4 linked regions of the Homo sapiens genome follow. The protein of the gene in region 4 purifies or fractionates together with the protein of the main gene of each other region. This does not show direct contact. Each region holds a gene or a part of one and is shown on either strand. Other genes may lie near its edges. The genes, in order: EIF4G3, EIF4G1, ANKRD28 and USP10.

Evidence for each region.
Region 1: the proteins of USP10 (region 4) and EIF4G3 purify together in Homo sapiens (affinity purification with mass spectrometry; 2 studies listed by BioGRID and IntAct, with this or other methods). This does not show direct contact.
Region 2: the proteins of USP10 (region 4) and EIF4G1 purify together in Homo sapiens (affinity purification with mass spectrometry; 4 studies listed by BioGRID, with this or other methods). This does not show direct contact.
Region 3: the proteins of USP10 (region 4) and ANKRD28 purify together in Homo sapiens (co-immunoprecipitation; 3 studies listed by BioGRID and IntAct, with this or other methods). This does not show direct contact.

What each region holds. Positions count from the first base shown.
Region 1 is NC_000001.11:20,805,979-20,809,897, forward strand, and holds the end of EIF4G3 (eukaryotic translation initiation factor 4 gamma 3), read right to left. Parts: intron 1,523-3,919; coding exon 1,341-1,522; 3' UTR 501-1,340; downstream 1-500. UniProt on the Homo sapiens protein: Component of the protein complex eIF4F, which is involved in the recognition of the mRNA cap, ATP-dependent unwinding of 5'-terminal secondary structure and recruitment of mRNA to the ribosome. Functional homolog of EIF4G1.
Region 2 is NC_000003.12:184,317,602-184,324,648, reverse strand, and holds part of EIF4G1 (eukaryotic translation initiation factor 4 gamma 1), read right to left. Parts: intron 6,933-7,047; coding exon 6,833-6,932; intron 4,961-6,832; coding exon 4,848-4,960; intron 4,387-4,847; exon of another isoform or gene 4,020-4,386; coding exon 3,927-4,019; intron 3,723-3,926; coding exon 3,656-3,722; intron 3,368-3,655; coding exon 2,546-3,367; intron 2,288-2,545; coding exon 2,199-2,287; intron 2,106-2,198; coding exon 1,919-2,105; intron 1,829-1,918; coding exon 1,695-1,828; intron 1,567-1,694; coding exon 1,408-1,566; intron 1,245-1,407; coding exon of another isoform or gene 1,242-1,244; coding exon 1,056-1,241; intron 870-1,055; coding exon 672-869; intron 449-671; coding exon 302-448; intron 1-301.
Region 3 is NC_000003.12:15,787,979-15,795,025, forward strand, and holds part of ANKRD28 (serine/threonine-protein phosphatase 6 regulatory ankyrin repeat subunit A), read right to left. Parts: intron 1-7,047. UniProt on the Homo sapiens protein: Regulatory subunit of protein phosphatase 6 (PP6) that may be involved in the recognition of phosphoprotein substrates. Involved in the PP6-mediated dephosphorylation of NFKBIE opposing its degradation in response to TNF-alpha.
Region 4 is NC_000016.10:84,703,000-84,710,046, reverse strand, and holds part of USP10 (ubiquitin carboxyl-terminal hydrolase 10), read right to left. Parts: intron 5,308-7,047; exon of another isoform or gene 5,220-5,307; coding exon of another isoform or gene 5,187-5,219; intron 1-5,186. UniProt on the Homo sapiens protein: Hydrolase that can remove conjugated ubiquitin from target proteins such as p53/TP53, RPS2/us5, RPS3/us3, RPS10/eS10, BECN1, SNX3 and CFTR.

The sequences.
Region 1 (3,919 bases), on a different chromosome or scaffold from region 4:
AGCATAATATAGCTTTTGGTTTTATTCATTCTTTAGAGGACATCTTTGGGTTTCTTAAGCATTGCAGGCAATTGATGGAAGATTTTAAAATCAGTGGTAGTGGCAGTCTCAAAGTGAATTATTGTCCTGAGTCCTGATACACAGAGTGGAAAACTTAGTTATCTAAAGGACTGCCCTTGAGGCCTACTGTCCTGAATGCATTTTTAGTTAGTGTTGGAAACAAGTTTCACTGGACTCCCAGTGGGGCATTCCCACCCAAGCACAAGTGCCCTCCTTACCCACAAAGTAGCTTGCCTTTTCAGTGAGTAGAGACATATACATACATACATGTGCATGCACATACGTGCGCATACACGCACATACACACACTCTCTCACTCTCTCTCGTTTTATCTCTCTCCCCTCAGGAGTGATTTGAATTAGACAATAAATAGCCAGACAGCACCCCCAGGAATGGGCACACATGCAGCAGCTGTCCAAAGGAGAAGTCACTTTACTTTCTTTTAAACTTGCAATGTTTGTCTTTATTTTGTTCTTTATATTTTCAAAGTGAAAAGAAATAGTACTGAGTCAATTTCTTTTTGTTTTTTTAAATATTTGTTCTATGTATTTACAAGCCTTAAAGTTGCTCTAAAGATTTCAAGAGTATTAAGAGTACTTTTCTCAGGGTAGCACTTTTTTTTTTTTAAACAATTCTTGGAGTTCTGTGGTCCACAGCATTTCCTTCTGTTTCAATGTTATGTATGTTTTGATTACTATTGTGATTTTTTAAATTTTCTGAAGCAAGCTGAGAGGCAGGCAGAAAGATTTGATGCCAAAAAAAAAAAAATCTTTCTTACCTTGTTCACCCCAAACTTTCTCAAATCTGGACTAAATGCTATACCTTAAAACAAACATGAGGTGCATCTTGAAGGGGAGGGAAATTTATTTCTCTGCTTTTCTATTATACAAGTTGTTTACAGAAACTGCAAATTAAAAAATTACACTGGCATTTGCAGTCCTTAAAATAAATTAAAAGTTCTCAACTTTTTTTTTTTTTGCTAAACATTTTTTTAAGTATGAGTCCTTGTTTAAAAAGAAAAGATTAAAACAGAAAATATTTTCTATAAATAATACATGTATTTTGGTTTTAGTGCTCCCGCCCTAAGGTTTGAAGTTTACTTTTATCCAGTACCTTTTTCCTCCATGATCACCTTTTTTTCTCTTTCCCCTCTCCCACTCGTGCACACGTGGGGGTTTCTGCGAGAATTGGCCTTGCTGCACTGTGATTGGCGAAGACGTGAAACTTTTTAAAAAAATACTTAAATTGTTTCTTTTGTTTCATTTTGTGTATTTGAAGTTTTAGTTATCCTCAGACTCCTCTTCTGCTTCCCGCAGCCACGTGAAGAATGCCGTGACAGATTTCAGAGCCACGCCCTTCCCATTCTGCTCTGCAGGGTCCTTGCTGCTCTCCCATTTGTAGAAGGCATCCTCGGAGATCACCTCCTCGTCATATAGACAATCAAAAAACATCCGCAGCAAATCTGCAAGGAGGTGAAAATAAACTATAAGCTTTGGGACACTGTAGTTATGAGGAAAAGAATATATTTCAAAATAATGAATGACTGAATAAATGTGCATTAATTCCCCCAGAAAAAAGCAATAATGACAATTCACCATACTTGCTCTTGACAGTATAAACAGCCCAACAACTTGTTTAAAGAAGAGGAAAAAAAGATTGAAGCAGTCTAAATTCTTTTTTATTCCTATTATTTTGTACAATTTGAACTTTTTTTCTGTTTTTTTTTTTTTTTTTTTTTTTTTTGAGAGACAATCTTGTTCTGTCCCCAGGCTGGAGTGCAGTGGTGCGATCTTGGCTCACTGCAACCTCTACCTCCTGGGTTTAAGCAATTTTCCTGCCTCAGCCTCCTAAGTACCTGGGATTATAGGCGCCTGCCTGGGTTTAAGCAATTTTTCCTGCCTCAGCCTCTCAAGTACCTGGGATTACAGGCGCCTGCCTGGGTTGAAGCAATTTTCCTGCCTCAGCCTCCCAAGTACCTGGGATTACAGGCGCCGGCCACCACAGTCAGCTAATTTTTGTATTTTAAGTAGAGAAGGGATTTCACCATGTTGGCCAGGCTGGTCTCGAACTCCTGACCTCAGGTGATCCGCTCATCTTGGCCTCCCAAAGTGCTGGGATTACAGGCGTGAGCCACCGTGCCCGGCCCAATCTGAACTATCTTCTGATACCAGTGAAGCTGTTTCATATCATGTTTATCTCAATCTAAACCCTATAAAATTTAAATACGAGTAGTTTTTTACTTTCTTTTTACTATTTTCTGCGCTGCAAGTTTACTGTATTATTTTTACAAAATTTGGGGGAAGGGAGAAAGGCAGGATATGCTTTTTATTCCTTGTAATGTTGTTTTAAAAATGAAGAGGTGGCCGGGCGCGGTGGCTCACACCTTTAATCCTAGCACTTTGGGAGGCCGAGACAGGCGGATCACGAGGTCAGGAGATCGAGACCATCCTGGCTAACACAGTGAAACCCCGTCTCTACTAAACATACAAAAAATTAGCCGGGCATGGTGGCGGGTGCCTGTAGTCTCAGCTACTAGGGAGGCTGAGACAGGAGAATGGCGTGAACCCGGCAGGCGGAGCTTGCAGTGAGCTGAGATTGCATCACTGCACTCCAGCCTGGGTGACAGAGCGAGAGTCCGTCTCAAAAAAGAACAAGAGGTGATCATTCACATGGAAAACATGAGTAAAAGCTATCTCATCTGGATTTTATCCAGTGAAACTACACCTGTTATTTACTGTTTTAAACGTCCAAACTATCCGTGTGATTTTAATTCTCGGTTTTACTCTCATAGTAAAACTGAGAATTATAGTTATCATATATAATAAGTTATTAGCTTATAGTTATTATAGTCAGCTCTCCGATCATTTATATTAATGGAGGGAGGCAGTGGAATAAACAATAAATGCTAATCAATATTAGGTTTATCATGAGTCGTATTAACTTTTTTTTTTTTAAATGGAGTTTTGCTCTTTTTGCCCAGGCTGGAGTGCAGTGGCATGATCTCGGCTCATTGCAACCACCGCCTCATGGGTTCAAGTGATTCTCCTGCCTCAGCCTCCCAAGTAGCTGGGATTACAGGCATGCGCCACCACGCCCAGCTAATTTTGTAGTTTTAGTAGAGACGGGGTTTCACCATGTTGGCCAGGCTGGTCTCAAACTCCTGACCTCGGGTGATCTGCATGCCTCGGCCTTTTTTTAAAAAGACTTATCTTTGTAATTATATTAGTTAAGCTAATATTATCAAATTATCTGATTCATGGTAGATTGTCTCTTCAGTTACACTATAAGGATAATTTGCTTTCATCTTTTCCTTTATCTCCAAGAGCGATTCAGGACTAGGAAAGAAGGAATTTTACAAAAGCGAAAATAAGGAAGTACCAAAGAACTACTTGAGTGCTCTCTCTAATAGCTATGTACTGCCCGCTTTAACAAATACCAACTGAATTTTCAAGATGTAATAAAAATCATTAGTTAACACCAAGTATCACTAAGACTTAAGTGTACAGGTTACTTTGTTTCATTAGCCAAGAATTAATCATAACCCTTAACTAAAAACTATTCTGAAACTCCTTAGTAAATATAGCATGGTAAATACACTACACTTAGGGTCTTTGTTGGGTGTCTAAAGATTCTAGAGTATCATCCTCAACATCATTAACCATTTTCATGCCCTAGACCTGTGTTGTCCAATATGGAAGCTATTAGTCAAACATGGTTATTTAAATTTAAAGTCAATAATTCAGTTCCTAAGTCACAACAGACATATTTAAGTATAGAATTGCCACATGTGGCTCATGATTACCATACTCAATGGTATGGATATATACTACCATCACTGTGGAAAGTTTTATTAGGCCTG
Region 2 (7,047 bases), on a different chromosome or scaffold from region 4:
CTCTATTAAAAATACAAAAAAATTAGCCAGGTATGGTGGCACATGCCTGTAATCCCAGCTACTTGGGAGGCTGAGGCAGGAGAATCGCTTGAACTCAGGAGGTGGAGGCTAGCCAAGATCACACCACTGCACTCCAGCCTGGGTGACAGAGCAAGACTGTCTCAAAAAGGAAAAAAAACGTCCTGAGCCAGAGAAATCCCCAAGACACCACTACCTCCATTCCAAATTCTACAGCTGAGTAGCATCTGGGTAAGGGAAGGAGGTAAGTGGTGAGTGGAATCGATAGTGGGTTTTCTCTCACCGTAGCAGCTTCATCCATCTCTTTTTGCTTCTTCTCAAAAACCTCATCATCATCTTTGTCTTTCTCAAACTCCTTCTGACATCGATTCAACAACAGCTTTCGGAAGTTCACAGTCACTGTTGGCTTTTCCGTAGTGGGCACTTTCAGCTGTAGGTCAGAGAGAATGTCACACTCAAGACTAGTCCTGGGCAGGGAAGGCCCTCCAAGAGCCTTTAACTACCTGACCCAGGAAGATCTCTGGCCCCAGCTCTGCCTCCTTCCAGCTGGAAGAGGCACAAGTTGGAGGGGAACCAAGAAGCTGGACTCAAGGAGTCTTGGGAATAGGAATGGGCAACCAGACCATTAGATTTAGAACCCACTGGAAACTAACCGCCATGAGGCAGCGGCACATGTTGGCATAGGCCACAGAGAAGTTGGGCTCTGAAATGGCCTTCTCAAAAATGAGGTCAATGACCCCTTTGAGGCGTTCCTCGGTGTCGATGGCCAGCTGCGTCACTTGCTTCATCAGCTGCTGGAACATCTGGGGTGTCAGTTTATTCAGGATGGAGCGCACCCTGCGGAATAGGTCCTGGAGGGAGAAGAGACAAGAGTTCCAGTGAGGGTCTCAGAACAGGCTGTTGGGAGGGACAGGAGAGGGTGGTGGGGACTTAGGCATGACAGATGCTAGTGATAAGGACAAAAAGAAGCAAAGAGGGCACAGATGGCAGACCTGGAGAAGAAATGGAGAGAGACCAAAAGCAGGACTTGCCAGTACCTGGGTTTTGCTGCCATCAGCATCTTCTTCCCCTCGATCCTTATCAGCCGCCGTCCGCTTGCTGCTGGGTTTCCAGGCTTTCTCTGCTTTGTTCAGTTTTATATCTTCGGTCATTAACACTGTGGCAATGATCTTGCGTGGTTCTTTTCGGGGTCCCTGCTGAGAGCGCCGGGGTCCCAGGCCAGCCTGCTAAGCAAGGGATGAAGACAAGAGGGGACATGGAACTAGTCAGCACAATATGTGACACCACTACTACACGCCTCCAGGGCAAACCCCTCCCCGCGGGCACTGAGACACGGAATCATCCACTCCCACTCCTTGCCCACCTGCCACTTTACCCAGCCCCACTCACCGGCCCACGGGGCAGCTCCCCACCTGGCCCACCCCTTGGGGGCCCACGGGTGCTAAGGGTTGTCCGGCCAAGGTTGGCAAAGGATGGAGTGAAGTCTGGGCCACAATTTATGCCTTGTAGTCTAGTGGGATCCAGTGGCCGCAGTGGTGTTTTATTGGCCTGCAAAGAGGACAGGAAAAGGTCTCAGAAGCAGGCTAGAGCGGTTGACTACTCTTTCAGGACCTCAGGCTCCTCCCCAATCCATCCAGCACAAACTTATCGTCCCCTCCCCAACTGAAGCCACTAACCTTGTCCAGCACCACGTCACTGATATGTGGCAATCCCTCTGGCTTCTGCATACTGGCAAAGATGAACTGAAAACCAAGCAGGAACTCACGGTCGTAACGTTTTTTCTCCTCTAGGTTTAGAGGCTTCCACTGATCTGCAAGGAAAACAGAATGAAGCAATCATACTGCCTCCTCTGGCCCTAATAAGAAAACTCAAGCCATTCTCAACCCTTTCTTCAGCATACCTGACTTATATTCATACTTCTGTTCCCCGGGCTGGATGTTCTCAGCATTGTGAATTTTGTCTTCCTTTGAGTCCCAGGTCTCATCTGCTTCCTCAGGACGTGGGGGCACACCACTGCCCTCAGACTCTGGGCCTGGATTGCTGCCTGCAGGAGGCTGATTTTCCACCTCTGGTACTGCCGGGTTCGCCTAGAACAACAGAACATCCAGTTTTGGTTGCAGAATGACCACTGCTCCATACCTCAACTTGGCCCTCTCCCCTCCCATTTTCTGCTCCCTTACCTCCTTGAAGGCATCCAGAAGGTCTCCAACAGCCTCCTTCTTATTTAGCTCCTTAATTTTCCGTCTCCTCTTTGGCACAGATACTGCCACTAATTAAAAATAAATAAATAAAAGCATGGATCTTTGCCAATAATTTAAGGAGTACCCTTAATCCCTGGGAAATAGAAAGCAGCCAAAGAACAGTATTTCCCCTTTGCATCACCCTTTTTAGGCTTAAAAGTCCTTAATCTAGTTCTTAGATTCCATTGCAGGGACCCAGAAACATGTCAAAAATGGGCGGTCATCAAGGAGGGCAAGGAACGATATCCCCTAGCCCGCCCTACCTCTACCGTCCAACCACACCTTACCTTGAGTGGCTGCTGCTGCCTCCAAATTCTGAGACAAGTTGGCTGGAATAGGGGTACTCTCTGGGGGGAGCAGTTCCTCTCCTCCTTTCTCACTCTCAGCTTCTCCTGCTTCTCCTGCTTCTCCTTCTTCCTCTTCTTCTTCTTCTTCCATTTCCTCCTCCTGAGCTGGGGAAGTAGCTGAAGGAGCCGTAGCTGGAGTAGCAGAGGGGATGGTGGGGGGCGCCATTGATGCTGTCACCTCCTTGGCCTGCTCCTCTGGCTCACTGACTGGGCTTAAGTCCACAGCTGGTGGCGAGGGGGCTCCGTTGAGCAGTTCCTCAGGTTGGGCAGTTGGAGCAATGGGCACAGGGGATTCGGAGGGGCAAGCTGGGGGAGGAGCAAGCTCTGGGCTTGACTCCACCTCTGGTTCCAGATCTTCAGATGGGACCATGCCATTAGGCTCATGAATTTCCACTGTGTGAGATGCCAAAGGGGTGGGAGCCTGGAGAGGACTGGAAGAAAACTCAGATTCTGGAACCGGTTTGCTAAGTGTCACTTCTACTTCCAGTATGGGTTCGGCGAGAGGAGTGGGTTCTGGAGAGAGGCGATATGGCTCCCCAGTTTCACGGGAGATGGGGGTTGATTCTTCTACAGACATTTGTATAGTTGTCATAGTGTCCCCAGGAATAGAGAGGACTGCGAGATTAGGCTCAGACCCCGGTTCCAAGACTGGGGATGGTGATGGGGTCGGAGAAGGCGACGAAGGCTGGGATTCTGAAGGGCTATGCTCTGGGCCAGGCAGCCCTGGCCGGTCAGCAATGATTGCTCCCTGTGACCGGTCATCTGCACCATAGGAAGGAAGAATGAGCAACTAAAGGCAAGTGCTTAACTGCTGTTGTTCCTCCCCATCCTCCAGCCCAGGCATTCCCAACTTAATAACCCCGCATCATCTTCTCCCCACCTAAGCTATACTTCCACTTTCATCCAAAACCCAATTCACCCTCAAAATCCCACAACCTGAAATCTAAGTCATCATTCTCTGGTACCCAGTTCAAGTCACTCCACCACCTCAGCATTTAACTGTTAACATTCCCTTTCCCCATAAAAGCTCCGTCCCACCGGCTTACTTACCTGGCCGGACAATGACAGCAACCTGGGGCGTCTCCCCATTAGCTTGAGGCTCCAGACCGCCTCCCGTCTGCAGGACACAAAGGGTTACCAAGTTTGCACTGAAGAGTCCCACAACCCTTCTTTACTAGAGCCATTTCTACTTTAGCTCTGCCTAGAAATCCAGGAAAGCAGGGAAATAAATCCCTTAGTTGAAAGAAAAGATCCAGGGACTTGGGAGTCCAGGGCAGAACAGACATCCCAGCCAGGGTATCACTCGAAAAGCAGACAGTACCTGGGGAGGGGTGGGTGTGGAGGCAGTGCGGGCCCCAGACATGATCTCCTCTGTGATATCCTTTCCTCCTTGGTTTGGATCTCGAATTCGGATCTGGGGAAAGAAAGCTATAAGATGAGTGGGAAGCAGGAAGAGCCCACCTCTCCACCCTGCCCCAATCTTAAGACTCTGGGCCAACTCCCCACCCCCCAGCGGGAAGCAGGTAGGTAGGTGCCAGAAACCCCTTGAGTTCCACTTTCAGCCCATCTGGCTGCTCTCGTAGTCCCTGCCCCAGCTCCCACCCTTAAGAGACCCTTGATCTCACAGAGCAGCCCTGTACATCACAATGCCCCTCCCTCCCTCATCCCTACCCCACCAGCAGTCCCCAAGTCAGTGGCTGCACACCCTGGGGCCCAGGACCCCCATCTAGAACCCAATCGGCTCACTTGTGGCTAGTGTGCCTGATCTCTGGGGGCAGGGCCCAGATCCAGTAGGTGGAGCCAGGGTGACTCAGCGGCTTCCCCAGCTCTGGCACCCTATTCTGGGCACCACGCCCAGGGCTTGAGGACTGAGCAGAGGCGGAGGCCTTGAGAGCTTCCAGGACTGGGGGGGCAGGGGGGAATGGGGGCTGGGGCCACAGAAAACAAACCATTTCCAAGGCAAGCCACTAGAAACCCAAAACCAAGCATAGTTCTTCCAACCCCCCAGCACCCAGGTCTCGCAGGAACTTCCTCGCTAGGCACTTCAGTCTTCCCATGACCTGCTTCTATGCTGAAATCTTAGCATCTTACAAAGAACCTGAGCCCTCCACAGACACCATTCTCTGCCCACTCTCAGCTCCTTCCTCCTCAAGTCACTGCTCTTTCCGGCACAATGTCCCAGCAGCACCTGACCTTGATTCTCCCCTTCCCAGATGTCCCGGAGCCCCTCACTGCTACTCACCGTCTTACGCTCCCTCTTGGGAGCAATCTGGGGTGGCTGGTTCATCAAAACTGGGGTGGGGGCCACGCCAGTGGGAAACTGCTGCACCCCTTGGGCTGGATAGTAGGCGCCAGCTTGGGGGAGGGGGGACGGAGAAGAATGGTGGTAGCGTCAGGGCCCAACCATATACTAATGCCTGCCTGACACCTCCCACCCCAAAACCTCTCACCACCCACAGCCGGCCCCTTGCCTTGCCCTGCCCTGCCCTCCTCCCCCAGGGAATTAGGTGTCTGTCAAAGCTGGGGAACCAGTCTGAACTGCGTTTACAAGAATTCCTAACACACACACACACACAAACACACACACACACACACACACACACACACACACACACACCCCTCGTAGGCAGGCACTCTTTCCTACCACACACCAGTGACCAGGAGGACTTATGTCTGTCCTTCCACCGTACAAGTTACTCTCGTGTGTGTACCCCACCCGCTATCAACATGTACACACATACTCTGAACCTGAAACAGAACCAGGTCTTTGGCTGGTAATGAGAGAAAGAGATCTGCCAACCCTGTTCCATTTAACTTGAGTCTAGTTCCTGTCTCCAGCCCTTTACAAAGGGGCAAAGAAACAAAGTAACATTATGAACTAGGCTCAAGATGAAGAAAAATTAATTCCTTAAAGCAAACTATCTCCAAAGTGGGTGAGTTCTTTTTTCCCCTTAATTTTTTTTTTTTTTTGAGATGGAGTCTCACTCTATTGCCCAGGCTGGAATACAGTGGCACAATCTTGGTTCACTGCAATCTCCACATCCCGGGTTCAAGCGATCCTCCTGCCTCAGCCTCCCGAATAGCTGGGATTACAAGAGTGCATCACCAGGCCTAATTTTTGTATTTTTAGTTGAGACAGGGCCAGGCGTGGTGGCTCACGCCTATAATCTCAGCACTTTGGGAGGCTGAGGCAGGTGGATCACTTGAGGCCAGGAGTTCGAGACCAGCCTGGTCAACATGATGAAACACCATCTCTACTAAAAACACAAAAATTAGCTGGGTGTGGTGGCACACGCCTGTAATCCCAGCTACTCGGGAGGCTGAGGCAGGAGAATCACTTGAACCCAAGAGGCGGAGGCTGCAGAGAGCCAAGACTGTGCGACTACATTCCAGCCTGGGTGACAGAGCGAGACTCCGTCTCAAAAAGAAAATTAAAATAATAACAATAAAATTTAGTAGAGACGGAGCTTCACTATGTTGGCCAGGCTGGTCTCGAACACCTGACCTCAAGTGATCCGCCTGTCTTGGCCTCCCAAAGTGCTGGGACTACAGGCGTGAGCCACCGTGCTCAGCCCCCCTCAAATTTTAAAATAGAGACAGGGTCTCACTAAGTTTCCCAGGCTGGTCTCAAACTCCTGGCCTTAAGCAGTCCTCCTGACTCCCAAAGTGCTGGGATTACAAGCAAGATCCGGGCACATTCTTTAATTTCATCCCTAAATTCCACTTGTTTTTGACAAGCACAAGTGTATTTGTTTAAATTTTGCATACATATAAACAAAAACATACATGTATGAGAGATTCATACTCAAAACTTTTCCTGATAGGTGATCAAAAAACTTGGAAGCCACTGCCATAAAGAACAGACTAATCCTTCCCTAGAACATAAATAAAAAATAGCTACAAAAACCTCCCAAATTTGCATTACATGGGCTCCCAACCATGGAAGAAGTGTCACAGGGAAAGCCTACTAATAGGCTCTCAGGCTGGTGCCTGATCCTACATTCCCTGATGTGGGAAAGACTCTTAACTCTCCTGGCAATAAAATCAAATTTTCTCCCCACAATCAACACCAGTTAAATATTAAGCACCAATCCCTACCACCTATTAACCTTATCATTTTTAGACCAGAAGCCAAGCCTGGGAAGGGTCTTCTGCTTTAGAAATCAGCAGATGAGTTTAGATGCTCCCTTGGGCTTGTTCTCACCTCTGACTCCCTCCCCTGCTTACCGTAGGTCCCAAATTCTGTAGGGCTTGCACCTGGATAGAAGCCTGGGGCTCCTGGCTGCACAGGGTACTGCTGTGTCGGGACAACGTATGTGGAACGCCCCTGGTGGGGAAGGGGGAGAGGGAGAGAAGGAGTTGAGGGAGCTATGAGTTCCATATCAGACTCCAAAAAGAACATAGGTCAAGACAAGACAAGCCAACTCTGGGCAATGACCAGA
Region 3 (7,047 bases), on a different chromosome or scaffold from region 4:
ATATTAAGTTATATGCTACATCTAAGATCTACCGCTTAGCTCTTAAATCAGCTCTTTAGAGTTTAAAAAGGGTTGCTCATAATCTCAGCCTTCCTATGTTTAAACACTAAAAACAGTTTGGCTGGATCCTTGTGTAATACTACTTTGACATTTTTATCTACCAAAAAAATATGGCACTAAAGAAGGCTTGTGTCTTATTTGTCTCATCACTTGTTTGCAATGATAAAATGTAACAGCACTTGGTATTATAAAAATTAGGATTATCTTTGTATCACAGCTTAAAAGGCAGGAGTTCATAGGGCACAGACATAACTATTTTAGAGAGAAACATCCATTTTCCAACTATTATTGCTTTATAGTACTATTTGGCAGAAGAAAAAATATTTCTCTCTCAACAATATGCTTTATTTCTCCAGTTACTATTAAGTCGGACATGGGTTCAAATTCCCATTCTGCTATACTGATTCTGCAGACGGTTAATTTTTGTGAATTTTAGTAGAAATGTTAACCTGTCAATTTTATAAAACTGTTGTACAAGTTAAATTGAGTAATACAAAATGGCTTATGCCTATGTCTGTCTCAAAAGTAAAGTTCTACAATTAACACCAATTTTAATACTCTTAATAAAAAATTAATATTTGTAGAAAATAATTTTCTTATAAAGAAGAATCAAAGTTTTCCTCTAAAATGTGGTATCATTAATATTTCAGATTAACCTATTTGGGTTCTACAACATGGCATTAAGTTCTAGTAAATCTTAGGGAAAGGCATTTATTATTTTGGTCACGAAAATCTAGAAACACAAATGAAAGCTTTTGGGCAAAAGCAGGAGGTCACTGAAAGTCATTTAGAATTTTTAGAGTGTCCTGAATTTGGAGTGGGGAAAGACTGTGAAGATCATTAATGTAACCCTACACATTTACCCCCCCAAAAAAAAAGAAGAGTGAGGGCTGAAGTTAACAGGATTCACTCAACTTGTATAGCCAATAAGGCTAAGAAGATATGAAAATCTAGGTCTTTCAACTTAGAGTCCAACTGTTCTTCACATTCTATGTACCACTCTGCTTTTAAAACATTTTGATTGCATTTCACCCTTTTATGGTTTACAGTGCTTCTTCCACATCCAGGTGACTTATTTTTCCAAAATTTTGCTATTTCAACAGTTTTTAGGCAACTAATAACCGTCCAGTTAGGTTCCTATCCAAACAACTATTTTCCCTTTCTTCCTTCCTATGAAAATCCTGATTTACTCCTGAATATGGCAATATATTCAATAAAGTCCACTGAAGCCCTATTCCTGCTCCAGGGGATGAACCAGGTGATGAACCAAGACTGATCTAGCAAAAAGCGAACCCCATTCTGCTTTGCTGGTGAATTAGTTTAGAGTAGTCTTGTAACCAATGGAACCTTAGGAAGGAATTTTGTGGGGACTTTCGAAGAGAGGTTTTCTCCTTTTTTTAAAAAAAAAAGAAAAGAAAAGAAAAGAAAATGTACAGGAGAGTCTCTTTTCCAATGTCTTTGGTTGTCTCCCATAAGTACATGATACAGCAGTCATCTCTTTATTATGAGAAAGCCAAGAGTTTCACAGAGAAGCTCACCCAGAGCTCTGACATTGCTGTTTTAAACAACCCCAAATTACCATGCTCTAGATTAAATTATTACACAAGCAAAAAACCTCTATTTATTCAGGTAGTCAATTATTATATCTGTGGCCAAAATCTGCCAAATATAAAACTCTAGTATTTGCTAGTGAAACTATGTTACATGACTTCTAGAAGACTTCATGTCATACCAAATAATATGAATATATAATTTTTTAAAATTAAAGTTTGTTAAAAATCTATTAGGGAAACAAAAAGTTGACTTAAAAAAATACAATTGACAAATCTTTAGCCAGACTAAGAAAAAAAGAGAAGAAGATCCAAATAAAATCAGAAATGAAAAAGGAGACATTACAACTTACACAGAAATTACGACTTACACAGACATTATGACTTATGCAGAAATCCAAAGGCTTGTTAGTGGTTACTGTAAGCAACTATATATGCTGATAAACTGGAAAATATAGAAGAAATGGACACATTCCTAGACATATACAACCTACCAAGATTGAAACAAGAGGAAATCCAAAACCAGAACAGACCAGTAACAAGTAATGAGATCAAAGCTGTAATAAAAAGTCTTCTAGTAATGAAAAGGCCAGGACATAATGGCTTCACTGCTGAATTCTACCAAACATTTAAAGAAGAACTAATACCAATCCTACTCAAAATATTCTAAAAAATAGAGGAGGGAATACTTCCAAATTCATTCAAGGCCAGTATTACCCTGATACCAAAACCAGACAAAGACACATCAAAAAAAGAAAACTACAGGCCAGTATCGCTGATGAGTATTAATGCAGAAATCCTCAACAAAATACTAGCACAACTGAATTCAACAATATATTAGAAAGATCATTCATCATGATCAAGTGGGATTTATCTGTGGGATGCAAGGATGGTTCAAAACACAAAATCAATTAACATGATATATCATATCAAAAAAATAAAGAATAACCATATGATCATTTCAACTGATGTTGAAAAAACATTTGATTAAAAAATTCAATATCCCTTCATGATAAAAACCCTCAAAAAACTGGATATGGAAGGAACATATCTCAACATAATAAAAGCCATATATGACAGACCCACAGCTAGTATCATGCTGAATGAGGAAAAACTGAAAATCTTTCCTCTAAGACCTGCAACACAAGGATGCCCACTGTCACCACTGTTATTTAACATAGTACTGGAAGTCCTATCTAGCTCAATCAGACAAGAGAAAGATATCAAAGGCATACAAATTGGGAAGGAAGAAGTCAAATTATACCTGTTTGTTGGTGATATAATCTTATATTTGGAAAAACCTAAACATTCCACAAGAAAACTAGAACTGATAAATTCAGTAAAGTTCCAGAATACAAAATCAATGTACAAACATCACTAGCATTTCTATATGCCAACAGTGAACAATGTGAAAAAGAAACTAAAAAGTAATCCTGTTTACAATAGCCATACATAAAATTAAATACTTAGGAATTAACCAAAGAAGTAAAAGATCTCTATAATGGAAACAATAAAACACGAATGAAGAAAATTGAAGAGGACACCAAAAAATGGAAAAATATTCCATGTTCATGGATTGGGATGAATCAACACTGTTAAAATGTCCTGGCAATCTATAGATTCAATGCAATCCCAATCAAAATACCAATGGAATTCTTCACAGGAATAGAAAAAATACTAAAATTTATATGGAACCAGAAAAGACCCAGAATAGCCAAAGCCACCCTAAGCAAAAAGAACAAAACTGGTGGAATCCCATTATCTAACTTCAAATTATGCTACAGACCTATCGTAACCAAAACAGCATGGTACTGTCACAAAAACAGACACGTGTACCAATAGAACAGAACAGAGAACCCAAAACCAAATCCAAACACCTACAGCAAACTCATTTTTGACAAAGGTGCCAAGAACATACACTGGGAAAAGACAAGTCTCTTTAATAAATGGTGCTGGGAAACTGGATAAACACATGCAAAATCATGAAACCAGACCCCTATCTCTTGCCATATACAAAATTCAAATCAAAATGCATTAAATACTTCAAACTGAATCTAATACAAGAAAACACTGGGGAAAATCTCCAGGACATTAGTCTGAGCAAATATTTCTTGAGCAATAGCCCACAAGCACAGGCAACCAAAGCAAACATGGACAAATGGGATCACATCAAGTTAAAAAGCTTCTGCACAGCAAAGGAAGTAATCAACAAAGTGAAGAGACAACCCACAGAACGAGAGAAAACATTTGCAAACTACCCCTCTGACAGGGGACTAATAACCAGAATATAAGGAGCTCAAACAACTCTACAGGAAAAAACCTAATAATCTGATAAAAAATGGGCAAAAGATCTGAATAGACATTCCTCAAAAGAAGACACACAAATGGTGAAAAGGTTCTCAACATCACTAATCATCAGATATCCAAAACTCAATGAGATATCATCTTGTCCCAGTTAAAATGCCTTTTATCCAAAAGTCAGGCAGTAACAAATGCTGGTGAGGATGTAAAGAAAAGGGAACCCTTGTTCACCATTGGTGGGAATGTACAACCACTACGGAGAACAGTTTGGAGGTCCCCCAAAAAACTAAAAATAGAGCTACCATATGATCGAGCAATTCCACTGCTGGGTATATATCCAAAATAAAGGAAATCAGTGTATCGAAGAGATCTGCACTCCTATGTTTGTTGCAGCACTGTTTACAATAGCTAACATTTGGAGGCAACCTAAGTGTCCATCAACAGATGAATGGATAATGAAAATGTGGTACATACACACAATGGAGTACTCGTCAGCCATAAAAAAACAGACCCAGTCATTTGCAACAACAGGGATAGAATTGGAGATCATTATGTTAACCGAAATAAGGCAGGCACAGAAAAACAAACATCACATGTTCTCACTTACTTGTGGGATCTGAACATCAAATCAACTGAATTCATGGACATAACAGAAGGATGGTTACCAGAGGCTGGGAAGGGTAATGGGGGGTTGAGTGGGAGGTGGGGATGGTTAATGGGTACAAAAAAATAGAATAAGACCTACTATTTGATAGCACAATAGGGTGACTATAGTCAATAATAACTTAATTGTATATTTTAAAATAACTTAAATAATGTAATTGGAATGTTTGTAACTCAAAGGATAAATGCTTGAGGGGATGAATACCTAATTCTTCATGATATGATTATTTCACATTACATGCCTGTACCAAAACATCCCATGTACCCCATAAATATAGACACCTATTATGTACCCACAAATTTTTTTTAAAACCCACTAAAATAAGAAGAAAAATCTATTAGGTGTGTTACTAAGAAACGTGCTGTTTAGTGGTCTACAATATTCAAAACCTCAGGGTGTGACTAAAGAAACTCATCTAAAATTATACAATGACTATTTAATGGTAGAGAAATAAATCTGAACTTATATCCATTCTAAAAATGAATAAAAACAACTTCAAAAAACTTAAGAGAAACCTGAGTTTCAAAAAGTCCAACGTTATTCTCCAAATACTTATTTAAATAAATTTACTTTGGAAAAACACGACTGTCACACTGACATAAAGCTTAAAAATATTTTATTACCTATTAAAAGTCAGTGCATTTAACACCCATTGCCTTTTAAAACCCCATATGATTCCTTATCAGACAAAATCAGATGATATTTACCATCTTAAATTCAAATAATGGCCAAAAAGTTAACAAATCTTGACTTTAAGGCAACACTCTCAACTACTAAGAAAGGGTCACGAGAGAAAAGGCCTAAAAGCAATCATAAAAGTTGTTGTCAAAAACCTTTGTATCACTGAAGACAATTGTCAAAGAGTTACTCTCAAGAAAGGCCTACTGATGAGTGAGCTGATGCTCTCAATGACTCTGAATTTTTTTTTAATTTAGGATAAATTGATTAAATATAACATAAAAGTAATGTCAGCTACAATAAACTTTGTAATGATGGAGAAATTAGCCCTGGTAAATGGAATTATAGTTCAAACTTTCTAATCAAGGTAGTATTTGTCAGTACTATTAAAATAAAACCAAAATAACAAGAAAACCTTAGGAGTTAAATGGAAAACATGTTTTCCACCTTTTCATGCGTCTATACCCCTTGAGCTATTTTCTAAGAAACGCATACTCTTCAGTATACCCTGGGTAAAGTAGCCAGACACTTCATTTAAAACAAATAAATCATGGCCCGGCACAGTGCCTCACGCCTGTAATCCCAGCACTTTGGGAGGCCAAGGCGGGCCGATCACCTGAGATCAGGAGTTTGAGACCAGCCTGGCCAACATGGTGAATGAAACCCTGTCTCTACTAAAAACACAAAAATTAATCGGGCGTGGTGGCAGGTGCCTGTAATCCCAGCTACTTGGGAGGTTGAGGCAGGAGAATCGCTTGAACCCGGGAGGCAGAGGTTGCAGTGAGCGGAGATCATGCCACTACACTCCAGCCTGGGCAACAGAGCCAGACTCTGTCTCTAAATAAATACATACATACATACATACATAAATCCTGAATTAGGTGCATGTTTCCAACTAAATATAAACTTGAAGGCAATTCACTTAGAAAAAATTTTAAAAAATATATAATGATAGCATTCTGTTCATTACCCAATGTTAAAATTAACAACAGTTTTAGCCAATGATTCAAATCTATTCAGATAATTCATTATTTTAAAAATAAGGTAAAACTTTTTTGTATCTACCTAACATTAAGTGGTCACAGCAGTATTATATTAAAAAAAAAAGGAGGAAAGATGAGAGTTAAAAATGAGCTTGCAATGGGTGCTTTCTTAAAACCACAATCATTTCTAGGTCATCTGTTTTGGTGTTGCCACAGCGACTTTGTGAATCATATGACTTTTCACCCCCTCCATAACTCAGGGGTACATTTGTTTCTGGTAAAAATATATACATTAGTGGATGTAATTTTGTTAGAGTACGTAATGTACTTTCAGCCACAACTTAGTAAACTAAATACTGGCCACTGAAAAAACATAACAGAGAGAGAAAATTATCCATATATCCACCTTTCTAAAACTGTCCATCATGTCAGCACTGAATATACTACTGTATCGTTAAGTCTGAAAACTTTTCCAACAATGACTTTACTGAAAACCTAATCTGACAAAAATTAATCAAGCACCATTGTAAAACACTCACCATGATTATTTACAAAAAGCAAATCTGATCTTATATTTAGATATACACTTACAAGAATCCTCATTTGAAATGCACAGTTAAGTATTTAATGGTGAAGTATCATGATTTCTGCAACTTACTACATATATATGTAAAAGTTGTATATTAATAAATACAGAAAGCAAATGTGGCAAAATGTTATCAATGCCAAAAGTAAGTGAAAGGTATATGGGTAGTCAGCATGTTTTTTTAACTTCCCTATGTTTGAAAAATTTCAAAGTAAAAAGCTGGGA
Region 4 (7,047 bases):
CCGTCTACTTCGGTCTCCCAAAGTGCTGGGATTACAGGCGTGAGCCTCGCACCCGGCCTCAACCAGCTATCTTAACACAGAGTTGCTACCAACTTCACTCAGTCCTGAGCTTGGATTACCAAATTCTTTCTCTCTCCTCTCCAGACTCCCGGCTAACCACTTCACCCTACACACCATTTCAGCCACAAATTTATCTGTTTCCCAAACAGGCTGCAGGCTTTGAGACAGTTCCTCTGCACAGTCTCCTCCACATGCCCTTGTCCGTGTGCTTCTCTGCCTGAAAAACTCCAGCTCAAATGTCACCGTTCTACAAGAGACGTCTTCCCAGCTTTGCCCAACATTCAGTCCCACTCTCCTCCTTTTTTGAAACACCTTATACCTAACTCCTGAGTCACGCAACTTCTCTCCACCTCCACGGCACCCTCCGAGTCAAAAGTCCAAGGACCCTGCCCTAAATGATCTCCTTATGGCCACTGCGACCCCGTGAGTCTATTCTTCACTGGGCAGAGTATGATCCCAAAAGGCAATGTGATTATGAGGTTCCATGGTCAAATGTTGTACCACCCCCTCTTCCACACTTTTCTCAGAATAAAGACAGTAACATCTAACAAAGGCTGCAAGGTTGGATGGTGCGTCTGTCCCTCCCCTCCAGCTCTGTGCCCAAGACACACAACTCCTTGCTGAGTTCTCCAAAGTGCTCCAAATTCCCTCCAGCCAAAGGTCCACCACACATGCTGTCCCCACTGTCTCATGCTGTAAACACGTCACTTCCACGGGAACGGTTCTCTGACTTCAGATTGTGTTCCCTTCCTTTGGGAAACATCTCTCAGTTTGGAGTGACGTGTACGTAACTGTGATTATCTGATTAGCAAGCTGTCTTCCTCAATGGACCCATAAACTCCTCCGCGAGAGAAACAATGCCTGTTTTCGCTCATCACTCCCTCCTCAGTGCCTGGTACACAGCAGCCACTCGGTAACTATTTGCTGAATGAATGAACAAACGAATGAATGAATGTTCTTGACTATGTTGTTCACACTTGTGTTACAGGAATTACCACCCTAAAACTGGATGCACCCAGCCATTAGCCTGCTTCTCTCCCTCACTACCCAGCGAACCTCTAAAGCACAGGAATTCTCTCTTCAGCTCTATACTCCTAACGTCCGGCCACCAAAATCTGTGAACAATCACAAAAGATATAAAGTCCTTCATATGTGGTTCTGAAAAAAGTGTCTAGTATTCTACAAATTAATTCTAAACAAAATAGTAAACCACACTTGGAAGCCCCGATTTTGCATTCTATTACAAGTCAGAAGTACTTAAATGTGGTTATCTCTCAGGAGTGGGACCTGAGTTGGGAAGTGTTTTGTTTTTTGCCATTGCAGTACTCTGATGAAACAAAGTGACAGAAGACAAAAACATGATTTTGAAGAAGATGGAGAAAAATTCAGGTGAATTACCCAGTTTCTCATTATTCCCTAGGGCAGGTGACTTACCAATCTCCAACTAATAAAAAGTTTGTCCTCTCATAAATCTAGTGCAAAGGCAATGGATGGACAAGAATCTGAATGTGAATCAGACCTCCTTTTTTGTTTTTTGAGATGGAGTTTCACTCTTTCGTCCAGGCTGGAGTGAAGTGGCGTGATCTTGTCTCACAGCAACCTCTGCCCCCACGGGTTCAAGCTATTCTCCTGCCTCAGCCTTCGGAGCAGCTGGGATTAAAGGTGCCCGCCACCACACTCGGCTAATTTTTGTATTTTTAGCAGAGATGAGGTTTTACCATGTTGGCCAGGATGGTCTCAAACTCCTGACCTCAGGTGATCCACCCACCTCGACCTCCCAAAGTGCTGGGATTACACGCGTGAGCCACCACGCCCAGCCAGACCTCTTTTTACACTATGAACACCGGACAGCATGACTACTACTAAGGGGGTGGAAGTCTTCAAAATATTTCTTATCTTTTCTTTTTTGACGTAAGAGTCTCGCTCTGTCACCCAAGCTGAAGTGCAGTGGCACAATCTCGACTCACTACAATGTCCACCTCCCAGGTTCAAGCGATCCTCCCACCTCAACCTCCCAAGTAGGTGGGACTACAGGAGAGCACCACCATGCCCAGTGAATTTTTGTATTTTTGTAGAGAAAGAGTTTTGCTACGTTGCCCAGGCTGGTCCCAAACTCCTGAGCTTGAGTGATTCGCCTGCCTCAGCCTCCCAAAGTGCTGGGATTACAGGCGTGAGTCACTCACTGCACCTGGCCCAAAATATTTCTTAAGAAAAAAAAAAATTGTTTGGACAACATGTTATAAGTTGTGGCAGCACTTCCACAATCCCCTGCACACTGGATCCTGATAAGTCACTTCAATCTCCAGAATATCTGCTTCATTCCCTGGCAAAATTAGGTAAACCTAAGAAAACTGACTTCAGTGGATGTTTTCAATAATTTTGAAAACAAGGTTTGCTCAATAAAGTTCAGTGACTAGATACAACAGACCATATTATGAAACAACGGAACAACAACAACAAAATACTCCAGTGGAAAAAAGCATAGAAGACACACACCAAACTGACGATTAAGGATCAGAGAGGAAGGGAATGACTTCTACTTTTCACTTTAAATACGTCTGTGCTGTTTTCGTGTCTTAAAAATAGCATGTCTTTATACTAGAAAATAAAATAAACGACTTTATTAAAATGTACCCCACACAAACTTTAGTGAATAGTAACATATTATAGTAACAAATTTTGTAATTAGTAACATTAAAGTTTCTAAATGCACATTTCATTCATTCATTCTGTAAATGTTTATGGAGGAACTACTAAGGGGAAGTCACAGTGTGAAAGATTATGCCTTCATCAGTCTCTTCCAGAAAACCAGTCTGGCAAAGTAGAAAAAGCAAAGGATTTAGAAGTCAAAACACCTGCTTTTAAAAGGTCCTGATGGCCAGCAGCCATTTGACCTCAAGCCACAACCTCTCTGGGTCTTATCTTACTCATCTGTAAAATGGTTATAATAATACAGGACAGAGTTGCTGTAAAGGCTCAAACAAGCTAAGGCACTTTCTAAACTATGCAGTTTATAGAGTTTATAGGCTTCAAATGATGACTACTACAATGCTTAGTATCTCGTAATAAATATGTTTCTCCTTCTCCAATGATCAGATCTACCCAGAAAGCCTACTTCAGGTCTTGAATAAATATATATATAGTCTTGGCCCGGCGCGGTGGCTCACGCCTGTAATCCCAGCACTCTGGGAGGCCGAGGTGGGCAGATCCCGAGGTCAGGAGATGGAGACCATCCTGGCTAACACCGTGAAACCCCGTCTCTACTAAAAATACAAAAAATTAGCTGGGCGTGGTGGCGCACACCTGTATTCCCAGCTACTCCGGAGGCTGAGGCAGGAGAATGGCGTGAACCCGGGAGGCGGAGCTTGCAGTGAGCCGAGATTGCGCCACTGCACTCCAGCCTGGGTGACAGAGGAAGACTTCGTCTCAAAAAATATATATATATAAAAATATATATAAATATAAAAATATAAATAAATATAAATACATATACAAATAAATACATATAAATATATATATAGTCTTTGCAGCCACGTAAGGGAAATTATTACTTAAAATACCAAGAGAAGGGGTATATAGGAACTCTTTGTACTTTTCTCTCAATTTTGCTGTGAACCTAAAACTGCTCTAAAAAATGAAGTATAAAAAAATTGTTTTAATGTATCAGAAGTTTTTTATATTGGGCAGGAATCTCGAAAACCTCTAGAATTGAACTTCATTTTCAAATCCTCTTCTATTTTTAACCAAAACTTCAACATGTCCTATCAAAAGTAAAAAGACTGATACTTGCAGAATGAATAGGGAGGCTAGGCGCGGTGGCTCACACCTGTAATCCCAGTACTTTAGGAAGCTGAAGCAGAAGGGATCCCTTGAGGCCAGGAGTTCAAGACCAGCCTGGGAAACACAGCAAATCCCTGTCTCTACAAAACAACAACAAATTGTTTTTTTCAAAGAATGAGTAGGGATGCTGGGGGCAGTGGCTCATGCCTGTAATCCCAGCACTTTGGGAGGCCAAGGTAGGTGGATCACCTGAGGTGAGGAGTTCCACACCAGCCTGACTAACATGGTGAAACCCCGTTTCTACTAAAAATACAAAAAAATTAGCTGGGCGTGGTAGCAGGCACCTGTAATCCCAGCTACTTGAGAGACTGAGGCAGGAGAATCGCTTGAATCTGGGAGGTAGAGGCTGCAGTGAACCCAGATCGCACCACTGCATTCCAGCCTGGGCAACAGAGCAAGACTGTCTCAAAAAAAAAAAAAAAAAAAAAAAAGCAAGCAAGGGCATGATTATGTCTGTACTCAACATACACAAATGGAAAGGAGCACATCTTCATAAAACAAAGACAAATGGGAAAACAAAAATCTAGCACCATCAGATCAGGAAGAAAGAAAGAGGGAAAGGGACGGAGGGAGGAGTCAGCTAGATGTAAAAATCAGGTTCAAAAGGCACAGGAGTGGCTGGGTGTGGTGGCTCACGCCTATAATCCCAGCACTTTGGGAGGCCGAGGTGGGCGGATCGTGAGGTCAGGAGATGGAGACCATCCTGGCTAACATGGTGAAACCCAGTCTCTACTAAAAATACAAACAATTAGCTGGGCATGGTGGCGGGTGCCTGTAGTCCCAGCTACTCAGGAGGCTGAGGCAGGAGAATCACTTGAACCCGGGAGGCAGAAGTTGCAGTGAGACAAGATACCGCCAATGCACTCCAGCCTGGGCGACAGAGCGAGACTCCGTCTCAAAAAAAAAAACAAACAAAAAAAACAAGGCACAGGAGTGGGGACACTCACCTTTTTATTAGGGATACTCTCACTTCAAAATGGACTGGTTTTGAGACTCCTGAGCCATAGAGTACAGGCTTAAGGAGATGTCCCTCCAGCTAATACCAGAAAAATAAACTGAGAATGGATCCGAAGAATGACAACCGATAAGGCTGTACACACAAGCCCAACGGGGAGGAGACTGAGGACTCTTAGGAGCAGCCACCATTACAGCGCAGACGGTAGCAGGTGCTGGGCCCGCACTCCACATGCACATTCTCCTAACAATTCTCATGTGAGCCCAAAAGGGAAAGTCGAGGAATTCAGGCTGTAACAGCCCCAAACCACATTTCTATCTCAACACCTTACCTGCCCTATTCCAGGAGAGGGCAACCAGGGCATGATGTTTCAAGACGGGACAGAATGGCAGTGCTGGTAGAGCTTCTGGGTTCTCAAGTCATCTGATGAAAATGGGATCATGGCCCAGGAGCTTTCAAATAGCCAGAAAATAGCCAGTTCAGAAAAAATCTAGGATCTGAAGATTCTACATCGAGGTTTATGATAAATTCTACATTTTCTGATCCTTGAAACAAATACTATACACATACCCCAAGGGCTACCTTTATTTTCCTACACTAATTCTTCATCCAGCCTGTATTGACAGAAATGGTCAAAGAAAGACCTTTTGGGAGAACACTTCAATAAACAGGAAAACTGCAGTCCAAGCACATACAAGTCTCTGGAAATGAACATCTACACTGCTGAAGTGGCACTAAAGTGACAAATGACAGTAATCCAATGGCCCAAGGCCAGCAAATTCCATTGCAAACAGATTTATCTGTTTTGTGCGATGGTGATTCTTGCATGTGTGGCAGTAAATAGAAAAGTAACAGCCTAATTACAAATTCAAAAGCAAGCTCTTCCCACTACGTTTCATATTTTGGTATAGTACCAGTAATAAGTGTCCTCAGCAACCACGTTTAATGTGCCACCTGAATACCAGGAACCATTAACAGGAAGTACCTACATGTCTGAAATTATATCTTTAAAAACAAACAAACAAACAAAAAACCGAAACAAAAACCCTGATGTAACTAATTCAATTGGAGATGATACCACTTTTCTCAATTACTTGAATGTTATATTCTGAGCACAGCACAGTGCAACGTGCCGCTTAGGCTTGGCATTAAACAGCAATCATTAAGCTTCGTAATCCTTTTCTCCTTTAAGTTTTCCTATGTGAATCACTGCTTAAATCCTATCAGTTCCACGTAACAGAACACTGGAATACATGTCCTAACTTTTGCTTTAGTGAGGAATTTAGAATGTGGTAGGCCCGCTTAGTATTCACTGGAATTTCAGTGCGCTGTGCTCTCAATGAGATGGGCTCAAGAGCATGATGGTGAGGTCCTGGTACGGCGCGGCTGCTCAGGCCATCTGTACAAACCACTAAGGCGACCACTGGCTCACAAACTTCTCAGGCCATCTGTACAAACCACTAAGGTGACCACTGGCTCACAAACTTAAAACATCTACTCTTAGGACATGTTTAAATAGCTTGCTGTCACTATGCAAAGGAAAACTGTTATCTCCAAATGCCCTGTCAACATTTCAAACAATTGTATTTACTTCAGCTGCTCATTACTTGAGATTCTAATAAAAATGTATCTCTTTTAAGAATTAACACTAATCCAGCTGTTGGCTAGAAACAGATATTCAGCAATACAGTAACATTCAGCCATATGCTAGAGGGGGAATCCAAGACTTTCCATCATGTAAAATGTGGAGGATCTGCTATTACAAGCTAAAAAAGAGACTGGGGTGAGTCTATGCAGAGACAAGGACAGAAGCCAACTGCATGACATTCAAATTGGGTGTAGGAAGCATTATTGTGGAGATTTCACTATAAATGACATCAATAATCACAAATATTTTTTCGGTGTAAGGCAAAACTAATAGCTTCAAATTAATTACCCCAAATAATTTAACCGGTCCCCTCAGTGACAAGGATATTCACTTGGACCTACACTTCAACTGTTAAAGTTCATTTATTTGTCTTTGCTAAAATGCTGAGTTACCGGTCTCAAAATGTTTCCAAATTCTTCACTATTACACTTCAATACAGGTAACAGGGATCAACCAACACTTTCTAATATTTGGAAATAAGGTTATTAACCTATAAACTTTTTTATTTATTTTGAGATGGAGTTTCGCTCTTTTTTTTTTTTTT